Linked DNA regions of Homo sapiens. The protein of the gene in region 1 interacts with the protein of each later gene in a biochemical or structural test. Each region holds a gene or a part of one and is shown in the gene's direction. Other genes may lie near its edges. The genes, in order: PIAS4, RBBP8 and TOP2A.

What was found.
Region 2: the proteins of PIAS4 (region 1) and RBBP8 form a complex in vitro, tested with the Homo sapiens proteins (one study listed by BioGRID).
Region 3: of the proteins of PIAS4 (region 1) and TOP2A, one has a biochemical effect on the other in vitro, tested with the Homo sapiens proteins (2 studies listed by BioGRID).

The regions. Positions count from the first base shown.
Region 1 is NC_000019.10:4,031,621-4,035,369, forward strand, and holds part of PIAS4 (E3 SUMO-protein ligase PIAS4), read left to right. Parts: intron 1-1,479; coding exon 1,480-1,553; intron 1,554-1,799; coding exon 1,800-1,960; intron 1,961-3,749.
Region 2 is NC_000018.10:22,936,262-22,940,010, forward strand, and holds part of RBBP8 (DNA endonuclease RBBP8), read left to right. Parts: intron 1-492; 5' UTR 493-590; coding exon 591-699; intron 700-3,749. UniProt on the Homo sapiens protein: Endonuclease that cooperates with the MRE11-RAD50-NBN (MRN) complex in DNA-end resection, the first step of double-strand break (DSB) repair through the homologous recombination (HR) pathway.
Region 3 is NC_000017.11:40,411,248-40,414,996, reverse strand, and holds part of TOP2A (DNA topoisomerase 2-alpha), read left to right. Parts: intron 1-1,371; coding exon 1,372-1,517; intron 1,518-1,704; coding exon 1,705-1,802; intron 1,803-2,025; coding exon 2,026-2,238; intron 2,239-3,178; coding exon 3,179-3,352; intron 3,353-3,541; coding exon 3,542-3,643; intron 3,644-3,749. UniProt on the Homo sapiens protein: Key decatenating enzyme that alters DNA topology by binding to two double-stranded DNA molecules, generating a double-stranded break in one of the strands, passing the intact strand through the broken strand, and religating the broken strand.

The DNA.
Region 1 (3,749 bases):
GGGTGGGGGCCGGGCTTAACTCCTCAGTGACCAGAGCCCGCAGTGCTGGGGGCTGTGGGGTCAGGCTTCCTCTCCGAAGGGGTCTCCTGCTGCTTCCCACAGCCGGCCCCAGGCTCAGCCTCTCTGTCACTGGATTTCTTTCTTGCTGCACCTAGGAAGTCCTCACCTTTGCCTCACTTGAACCCTTCCTGCTGCGCACGTCTCTCCATACACAAAGGAGGGAGAGTTTGCTTTAAAATCAGATGGGCACCTGCATCCCCTCCTAGCTGCCCCTTTGCCAGGCTTGAGGGTCCACCCGGGCACCGGGTAGCCAGAGCTGGGATCCAAGGATGGAAACTCAGCTGAGGAGTGAGCGGCTGGGGCAGCCTTGGCTCAAGCAGGGGAGCTGCTGGGAGCCAGCACGTGGCTGCCACCACGTCCCCACGGGAGAAGGAAGAGCCCACTGCTCCACACCCCGGCTGGGGGTCTGGGTGGGGGTCAGGAAGGAGGAAGTGGCTCCCAAGCGGGCAGAGATAAGTGGTGTTTCAGGCCAATAAGGGGTGGTAGGGGCATTTCCAGGCGGAGGAACGTCAGGACAGCTGGGGGGAGTGGGGGGGCAGGCTGGCACCATCACTCTGGACCCCAAGTCACTTGGGCAGGTGGCTTCCTGGAGGAAGCAACACTGGTCCACCAGGCAGCTGAGGGCCAGGTGGTGGATGGAGAGGCCCTGTGGGTTGTGGGCCAGGGTGGCCTGCCCCCCATGGCCCAGGGCTGGGGTCTCTCCTGAGCTACCCATGGATGGAGTTTACCCTGGGATGGAGCCACATCCCAGAAGCCTCAGGAGGGCAGCCAGGGTCCCTGCGTGAGTTTCCTTCTGGCTGTGGGCCTGCTGCCCGTCGAGGGGAGGGCGGCGCCTGCCTCCAAGACTTCATGTTTCACATATGTTTCCCCATGTTCCGTGCAGCTTGCTGGCGGGCACCGTCTTTTCCTTTAAAGAAGCAGCTACACTCCTGTCTGCAGGCTGCCTTGGGGCGGTGCTGGGGCTGGGCGGCAGCCGCTTGCTGGCTCACAGCCAGGAAGCCCCAGGATCCGTCTCCCAAAGAGTCCCTGCCTCATTCCCCGCTGTGGCCTTGGGGATGGTGCTTCGGTGACAGAATGAAGTCACAGCAATGACTCTTTCGGTGGCTGTGTTGCATGAAACTTGCCAGAAAAGTCCCATGGGTCATAGTCCACGCAGGGTGGGGGAGGCCACATAGGCCACCTCCGTGTGGGGGCTTCGGCTGGGTCTGTGCTGTGCCCAGGTTGTGGTCAAATCTAATGGTGGTTGCCACCCGGCTTTCTCCAATCCCTCACGGCCCCGAGCCACACAGCGAAGCTTGGGACTCATCGTCAGGGGCCTGTTCTGGGAGGTGGACGTCAGTGCCGGAGAGAACTCGAATCACAGCCCCGCGCCCTGCTGTTCCCACCCTCCTGACGGTGTCTTCCGTTCCCTCCCCACAGTCAAGGAGAAGCTGCGCCTTGATCCTGACAGCGAGATCGCCACCACCGGTGTGCGGGTGTCCCTCATCTGTCCGGTGAGTCGGGGCGCGGTCCCCTCCTCGAGGCCTCTCCTGCGGCCGGCCTTCCCCCCTGGCGGCCCTGGGCCCGGGGCGGCTTGGCTGGGCCGTGAGCCTGCGGGGGCGAGGCTGGTCTTCGTCCCCTCCGTGTTCCTGAGGCATGAGTGATTGGAGCGAGCCACAGGATGGAGCTGGGGGTGAGGGGCACCGGGCAGGCGGGCACAACAGGAGGGGTGCCCTGCTCACGCAGCCCCTCCCCCACAGCTGGTGAAGATGCGGCTCTCCGTGCCCTGCCGGGCAGAGACCTGTGCCCACCTGCAGTGCTTCGACGCCGTCTTCTACCTGCAGATGAACGAGAAGAAGCCCACCTGGATGTGCCCCGTGTGCGACAAGCCAGCCCCCTACGACCAGCTCATCATCGACGGGTGAGCCCGGGGCCCCGGGGAGGGCGGCCGGAGCCGGACATCCGTGGAGGTCTCGGTGGCACCCCGCTTCCTGCAGACCACATGGTGCCCCAGCAAGACACAGCAGTGGGGGCACATGGTCCTGGAGCTTTGGAAACCCCGGGCTGCGAAAAGAGCCGGTTTCTTTCTCGCGGAACTTCTCAGAGCCTTTGCTATGCAGGTGACAGCCACGTAGCTTAGGTTGCAGAAGGTGGGCTCCGGTCCACCCCGCTCCCACGTGACCTCAGGCAAGTGTGACCCTGAGCTCCAGGAGTGTGGTTTGTGCCACAAAAAACTGAGCCAGGTCGTGCTTTCACACGGCGTTCACCCCAGGACGCGCAGCCTTGGGGGTGACCTCCTCACAGAAAGGCAAAGGAGGTGGCGCCTCCTGGAGCACTCTGGCTACGCCATGCCCTTCCCTTCCTAGGTGGCACAGCTGTGGCCAGGCATTCCCCAGGCCACAGGGGACAGGAGGACAAGACCTTTCTCCCTGGTGGAAGGCTCTGCCCAGGGCTTAAGTTTCCAGAAACTGAGCCCCGTTGTCTGTGGTGCCTGATGCGGCTCCTGCCCGGCGCCGACCGCGCCCACCTCGTCCCCAGAGCCGCCGGCAGGGCGCGAGGCCACAGCGGCACAAGCTGGCGCCCTCACAGGCGGGAGCAGGCCCTGCCTGTGGGGGTGGGCCGGGTCCCCAGCCCTCAGGCATGGCCTCAGCGGACTGTGCAGGTGAAGGCAGGGCTGGCCTGCCTCTGGGGTTGTAGATTTCATCCCCAGGTGGACCTCCGGTTCATGCACTTGTCCCCATCCCAGGAGACAGACCTGTGAGCGTCCTCAGTTTACAGACGAGGAAACAGGCTCAGAGGAGGCAACCAGCAGCTGGAGCTACCCCGGCTCACGGGGCCAGGCTGAGACTTGAACCCAGCCTGAGTCTGGGTCCCCTCTGTGGAGGGCTGGGTGGCCACCCCCTTGCATCCCAGCTTCGGGTAGAGAGAGGAGTCCTTTGGGCCGGGCACGTGGGCTGCCTGAATGGCTGCTCTGTTCCCAGCCTGACAGCTGTGCAGCCGGGTGCCCGCCTTCCCCCACAGGCCCGGAGTGGGGCTTGGGCTTGGGGTGGCGGCAGCTCTCACAGCTCCAGGGCCACCAGGGCTGGGGCAGGCAGCTGTGTCCCATGCAGGCCTTGGCCTCAGCAGCCCATGGGACTCGGTGTAGCCAGGGAGGCTTCCTGGAGGAGGGGTCCTTGGTTCATACTTTGTTCCATGAGCCCTATCACCTCTCTGTCCCTGGCTCTGAGCTGGGTGACCCCAGGGTCCCCAAAAGAGCCCCGTCCCAGACCCTGCCTTCAGAGTCTTGTTCTTGGCCAGGGGAGCGGATAGAGGAGCAGAGCCAGACATAAACGTTCCCGTTGCTGTGTGTGTCTTGGGGAGGAGGAAGAGAAGCTGTGGGGTGGGGCTTTGGAGGGTGAAAAGCAGTTTTGCAAGCAGGGAAGTGGGCAGGCAGGGCTGTGCTACGCCTGGGGCGGCCCTGGCACGGTGGGCTCCGAGCATCGCCTCAGAGAGAGCTCGGCGGGGCGGAGGGGCTGGCCTGGGTGAGAGCCTCAGAAAGGGTGGCCCAGAGTGGGACGAGGGCTCTCCTGTGTGATGAGAACGATGCCACTGCGGGTGCCTGGGAGCAGCTGTAGCCTTGACAGTAACAGGCCAGCCTGGGCCCTGCATGGACCCGTGGGGCAGGGGGCCTCTCCTCAGACGCCCCCCAGCCACTGCACCTTTCCCTTCCT
Region 2 (3,749 bases), on another chromosome or scaffold:
TGGCAAATTTTTGTATTTTTAGTAAAGATGGGGTTTCACCATGGTGGCCAGGCTGATCTCAAACTCCTGGCCTCAAGTGATCTGCCCACCTCAGCCTCCCAAAGAGCTAGGATTACAGGCAAGAGCCATCTCCCCCAGCCAAAACAATACATTAGTCTATAGTGGTAAATTAATACTGACCATGAATGATAAAAACCCCTCAATATCTGAATCCTTTCTGTTTAATATAATTGAGATAATTTCTTCCTCTAAGAGAAATAAGAAAATTTGCCTGAAAATTTACCTCATATAGCCAAATAACTGAAATCAGAACTTTTCTCACCATTATCATCTTTCCTTATTCTTTCCTTCCCCTCCCAAATTCTAAAAATGATTGATTATAGGTAAATAAGGAAATGGTAAATGAGGATATCTGGGCTTGTGTTTCATCCTGATTTCAAAGTACATAAAGATAAATGCAAAGTTCATTTATGTTGCAATCTGTCATTTCAGGTATTTGACCTGTCCAAAGACGACTTGATACCTCTATAATGTAACAGAAAAGGTCAGAAAATATTAAGCAAGTAGAAGTGTGGAGCATATTAAGCAAGATGAACATCTCGGGAAGCAGCTGTGGAAGCCCTAACTCTGCAGATACATCTAGTGACTTTAAGGACCTTTGGACAAAACTAAAAGAATGTCATGATAGAGAAGTACAAGGTAAAATCTTTTCTTAAATACTTACAGCAGTATTTTGTTGAGACTGTAGTGGCTTTGTATACCTTTGTATGACAGTCCTGTTTATTATTTCTATTTCAGCTTTTAGGTTCCGGGGGTACATGTGCAGATTTGGTACATGGATAGATTGCATGTTGCTGGGGTTTGGTGTGCAAATGATTTCATCACCCAGGTAGTGAGCATGGTACCCCATAGGTAGTTTTTCAATCCCCACCCTCTTCCCACCCCCCTGACCCTCCACCCTCATGTAGGTCCCAGTACCTGTTGTTCCCCTCTTTGTGTCCATGTGTACTAAATGTGTAGCTCCCACTTATAAATGAGAACATGCAGTATTTCTGTTGTCTGCTCAGGGTAATGGCTTCATCTGCATCCATGTTGCTGCAAAGAAAATAATTTTGTTCTTTTTTATGGCTTCATTGTATTCCATGATGTATATATACTTTTTTTTAATTCAGTCCACTGTTGAATTTTGTACATTTAATGGCCATCTTTAAATTCAAAGATATCTTTTTTTTTTTTTTATTTTTTTTGAGACAGGGTCTCACTGTGTCACCAGGCTGGGGTGTAGTGGTGTGATCACAGCTCACTGCAGCTTCAACCTCCCATTCTCAAGTGAGCCTCCCTCCTGTAGTTGGGACCATAGGCACACGCTGCCATGCCTGGCTAATTTTTTATTTTTTGTAGAGTCAGGGTCTCACTATGTTGCCCAGGCTGGTCTTGAACTCCTGGCCTCAAGTGATCCTTCTGTCTCTGCCTCCCAAAGTGGTGGGATTACAGACGTGAGCCACTGCGCCTGGCCCAAAGATCTCATTATTTATTTATTTATTTATATATTCATGTATTTATTTATTTACTAATTAATTTTCAGAGAGGTTCTCACTCCGTTGCCCAGGCTGGAGTGCAGTGGTATGGTCACAGCTCACTGCAGCTTTAACCTCCCAGGCTCAGGTGTTCCTCCCACCTTAGCCTCCTGGGTACCTGGGACTACAGGTGTGCACCACCACGCCCAGCTAATTTTATGTATTTTTTGTAGAGACAGAGTTTTGCCTTTTTGCCCAGGCTGGTCTTGAACTTCTGGGCTCAAGCAGTCCACTGGCCTCAGCCTCCCAAAGTGCTAGGATTACAGGTGTCCGCTGCTGTGCCCAGCTGATCTTTTTTTCTTTTTCTTTTTGAGACAGGGTCTTGCTTTGTCACCCATGCTGGAGTGCAGTGGTGCAAACATGGCTCACTATAGTGTCAAACTCTCGGGCCCAAGTGATTGTCCCACCTCATCCTCCCAAGTAGTTGGGACTACAGGCGCACGCACCATGCCCAGCTAGTTTGTTTTTGTTTTTGTTTTTTTTAAACTTATCCTTCACCTTAGAACACCTAGCTAGTTTTTGTATTTTTTGTGGAGTCAGGGTTTCGCTATGTTGCCCAGGCTGGTCTCAAACTCCTGAGTTCAGGTGATCTCCCGCCTTGGCCTCCCAAACAGCTAGGATTACAGGCGTGAGCTGCGCCCAGCCAGATCTCATTTTTAGAGGACATTTACAATTGTAGTTTTTGTGATTCATTTTTATGGTCAAATTGGTGCTTTTTAACCACAGAACATAGTTTGTATACAACTTGCTGTTATTTACTTGTGGTAATATGTATGAGATAGTGGAAAACGTATACAATTTGTTGACTGAAGACCTGCATTTGAATTCTGATTTCATTTACCCACTTGCTCTGTGATCTTAGCCTAATTACCTAACCTCTAAATTTAATTTTCTTCTATAAAATTCTTTGCAGGATATAGACATAAAAATACTACATAAAGTCATTTGACAAACCCGTAGCACTGAAATACAAAAGTGAATGGCCACTTACCTTCAGACAGCCTGCAGTCTTAGTAGAGTCGTGTAAACAGATAATTACAGTACAGTGAAATAACAGTTAAAAGGTTTTTATGACGTGCAAGGAGTTTTAGAGGATTAAGCAATTGTGGTTGAGATGAGTAAATATTATTTGTGTTAAAAGATACACCATATGAAGCTAAGCTCAAGGTTTTAATATTAAATTTTAATATACTTTAATTCTGTAACTTTCCCTATGTCCCTATGTATGAGAAATGCTTCATATTACATTTGTTTCTTGATTACCTATTATAAGTTTAATATTGCAGTGCTTTATAGCTGTATCATTACACTGGAGTACTATTAAAACATAATCAACCTGAATCTAAAGTGTAGTATGTGAGTCTGTATTAGAACTTTCTTATGGTAGGCTGGGCACGGTGGCTCACGCCTGTAATCCCAGTGCTTTGGGAGGCCAAGGTGGGCGGATCACCTGAGGTCAGGAGTTCGAGACCAGCCTGACCAACATAGAGAAACCCTGTCTCTACTAAAAATACAAAATTAGCCGGGTGTGGTGGTGCGCACCTGTAATCCCCGCTACTCAGGAAGGCTGAGGCAGGAGAATCGCTTGAACCCAGGAGAATCGTTTGAACCCAGGAGGCGGAGGTTGCAGTGAGCTGAGATCACGCTATTGCACTCCACCCTGGGCAACAAGAGCGAAACTCCGTCTCAAAAAAAAAAAGAACTTTCCCATGGTAAGTTTAGTTTCTTGCAAAACTTCTGGTGACACCCTTATTAATTAATGAGTTTTGAAATATGAACAACCCCAAAAGTATTCTTTCAAGCCCCAGTGTTCATGGAGACACAAAGAAATGTTCAAGAAATGTTTTTTGGGCACTTACTATGTGCCAGACCTTGTGAATAAGAATAAATCCTATATAGTGCTAGCTTTAAGGGAATTTCTAGTCTAGAATTTTAATGCAGTATACTATGTTATTATCTGAAAACATGAAGGAAGAACTGAGGGTGTGTGTGGTTGCATGGGGAAGTGGGTTTGTGCATGGTTTATGTCAGACCAGGCTTGATAATTAAGTCTAATTAGCCAGGCAAGGAAGATGGTGGAAGGGGAGGGAATTTTCTGAGTAGAGAGAATAGCACATGCAAAAGTTTGCAGATAAGAGCTTGATTTTATTCAAGGAACTCTGGATAGTTAGG
Region 3 (3,749 bases), on another chromosome or scaffold:
TAATGTATATCGAGTTATTAACTAAAATATAGTACCATCCAAGAATTAACTTAAAATAACTGAAATAAGTTTTCAGCATTTTATTTGAGAGCAAGGCAGTTTATGATTGATATTGGTTTTCCTTTTTTTTTTTTTTTTTTTTGATGGAGTTTTGCTCTTATTGCCCAGTCTGGAGTGCAGTGGCATGATCTCGGCTCACCGCAACATCCACCTCCTGGGTTCAAGCAATTCTCCTGCCTCAGCCTCCAGAGTAGCTGGGATTACAGGCGCACACCACCACACCTGGCTAATTTTGTATTTTTTTTAGTAGAGATGGGGTTTCTGCATGTTGGTCAGGCTGGTCTCGAACTCCTGACCTCAAGTGATCTGCCTGCCTTAGCCTCCCAAAGTGCTGGGATTGCTGGGATTACAGGCGTGAGCCACTGCGCCCAGCCTGTTTTTATGTACTTTGTTGAGTGGGAACGAGATGTATAGATGATCCTCTTGAAAGGGGTATAATAGGCATGATGACTCACTCCTGTAATCCCAGCACTTTGGGAGGCCAAGGTGGGAGGATCAGTTGAGCCCAGGAGTAGTTTGAGACCAGCCTGGGCCATATAGTGAGACCCTCATCTCTACAAAAAATTTAAAAATTAGCCAGGTGTGGTGATGGACACCTGTAGTCCCAGCTATTCAGGAGGCTGAAGTGGGAGGATTGCTTGAGCCCAGGAGGTCAAGACTGCAGTAAGCTGTGATCCTGCCATTACACTGCAGCCTGGGTGACAGAGCGAGATGCTGTCTCAAAAAAGGAGTGGGAGTGGTGTATAATAATGTTTCCAGATTGTCCTTTTCTTTCCATTGGGCATAAATCATTTCCCTCTGTTTATCCTAACATTTTAAAATTTTGTATTTTTTCAACATTATCAGTGTCTATTCAGGTGTTGGAAAAGGTTTTTTTTTCCTCTTGACTCCTATTTCAGGAATGTCAGGAACTAAGCATGGTGGGAAATGTTCCTGCTGAATTTCAGAAGGTATATATGAAAAGTGCCAAAAAAATTGAGGGCTGGGTATGGTGGCTCACATCTATAACCCCAACACTTTGAGCAGTTCTCCTGCTTCAGCCTCCCAAGTAGCTGGAATCACAGGCATGCGCTACCATGCCTGGCTAATTTTTTTTATTTTTAGTAGAGACGGTTTCAACATGTTGGCCAGAACTCCTGGCCTCAAGTGATCTGCCCTCCTCAGCCTCCCAAAGTGCTGGGATTACAGGCACAGGCCACCGCGCCCAGCCTGAATATACATATTTTAGAAATAATAGTATTTAAATATTTTTAAATGTTAAGCATTCGTTTAATGTGTTGTAAAATACAATTTTCAATCTTTTTTTCTTAGGGAAAACAATTTAATTAGTATATGGAATAATGGAAAAGGTATTCCTGTTGTTGAACACAAAGTTGAAAAGATGTATGTCCCAGCTCTCATATTTGGACAGCTCCTAACTTCTAGTAACTATGATGATGATGAAAAGAAAGTGACAGGTAGAGTATTGAGGGGAAATAACATATTTGTTGCTAAAAATATATATATTTAAATGACTGTCTGTGGCATGAGGGTTAAAGATATGGAAATAAATCTCTATAATTGAATAGCTCTGCCAGTGATTAAGAAATAAAGCTGTCAATGAGATAGTAACAATAAAATAGTGTTTCATATTTATTTGCCCAGGTGGTCGAAATGGCTATGGAGCCAAATTGTGTAACATATTCAGTACCAAATTTACTGTGGAAACAGCCAGTAGAGAATACAAGAAAATGTTCAAACAGGCAAGTAAATAAGTGTCTTGTACCTTAATGATAAATGGTAGTAGTATAGCCATTTATAATGGCATTAATGATTGGTTTAATTTAACATAATTTATAAGCTATTGAAGTATGGAAAATTATAAGCATATATATTAGGTTATTAGGACTCATAAATTTATGTTATTTACTTCCAGTTTGTGAGATGACTTGAATTTTTCATGTTTCCTATTCTTTACTTCCATAGACATGGATGGATAATATGGGAAGAGCTGGTGAGATGGAACTCAAGCCCTTCAATGGAGAAGATTATACATGTATCACCTTTCAGCCTGATTTGTCTAAGTTTAAAATGCAAAGCCTGGACAAAGATATTGTTGCACTAATGGTCAGAAGAGCATATGATATTGCTGGATCCACCAAAGATGTCAAAGTCTTTCTTAATGGAAATAAACTGCCAGTGAGTATTTTCCTGGATGTTAAGGATAATAAGGGATTTTGTAATCATTGTCAAGTGCAAAATTGAATTTTTTCCCCTCCCATATGTTTTTGTTTGTTTGTTTGTTTGTTTGTTTGAGACAGAGTCTCACACTGTTGCCCGGGCTGGAGTGCAGTGGCACGATCTCGGCTCACCGCAACCTCCACCTCCCAGGTTCACGCAATTCTCCTGCCTCAGCCTCCCAAGTAGCTGGGATTACAGGTGCCTGCCACCACACCTGGCTAATTTTTTGTATTTTTAGTAGAGACAGGTTTCACTATGTTGGCCAGGCTGGTCTCGAACACCAGACCTCATGATCCACCCGTCTTGGCCTCCCAAAGTGCTGGGATTACAGGCATGAGCCACTGCACCTGGCCCAACCATATGTATTTTCTTACCACTTCTCACATATGTTCTTGAAAAGAGAATGGTATGCCACATTTTTTAATCAGCTCATTTTAAACTTACCGAAGGAATTTCTTTCTCAAAGAAACACCTAAAATAAATATTTCATGTCCTTTTTTTATTTTCCTTTTTCTTTCTTTTCTTGATAACCTCGCTGTGTCACCCAGGCTGGAGTACAGTGATGCAATCACGGCTCACTACAGCCTGGACCTCCCAGGCTCAAGCGATCATCCCACCTCAGCTTCTGGAGTAGCTGGAAATGCAGGCAGCACCACCATGCCCAGCTAATTTTTTTTTTTCTTTTTAATAGAGGTGGGGATCTCACTATGTTGCCCAGGGTGGTCTTGAACTCCTGGGCTCAAGTGATCCACCCACCTCGGCCTGTGTCCTTTAATGACCATTCCCTTATGCCTATCAGTGAACATCATTGCATTGGTTTTGGAAAGTCCTCATAGTCTATCATTGAACCTATTTTTTAATAACTTTCTTAATACTGTTACCTTTAATTCCTGTACAGGTAAAAGGATTTCGTAGTTATGTGGACATGTATTTGAAGGACAAGTTGGATGAAACTGGTAACTCCTTGAAAGTAATACATGAACAAGTAAACCACAGGTGGGAAGTGTGTTTAACTATGAGTGAAAAAGGCTTTCAGCAAATTAGCTTTGTCAACAGCATTGCTACATCCAAGGTAATTTTATTCTTAAATTATTAATCATGATTTATCTTTACATATATGTGTTCTTATTGTTTTTAATATATAAAGTGGACTTGAATATTGGGCTAGCTTAGTATAAAGGAGGTTAAATTAGTTTTTAATGTTTGATTATTATAATTTTGAGGATACTGAGTTTTACAGTTTGGTATTTTTCCTTATTAGGGTGGCAGACATGTTGATTATGTAGCTGATCAGATTGTGACTAAACTTGTTGATGTTGTGAAGAAGAAGAACAAGGGTGGTGTTGCAGTAAAAGCACATCAGGTATGTGCTTTTGGCAGTTTTCTTTTTCTAAAGTCAAGGAAGAAGAGAAAGGCTATAAATAAAGCATGAGTACATTTTTAGTGGCTTAATATCAACTTCTATTGCA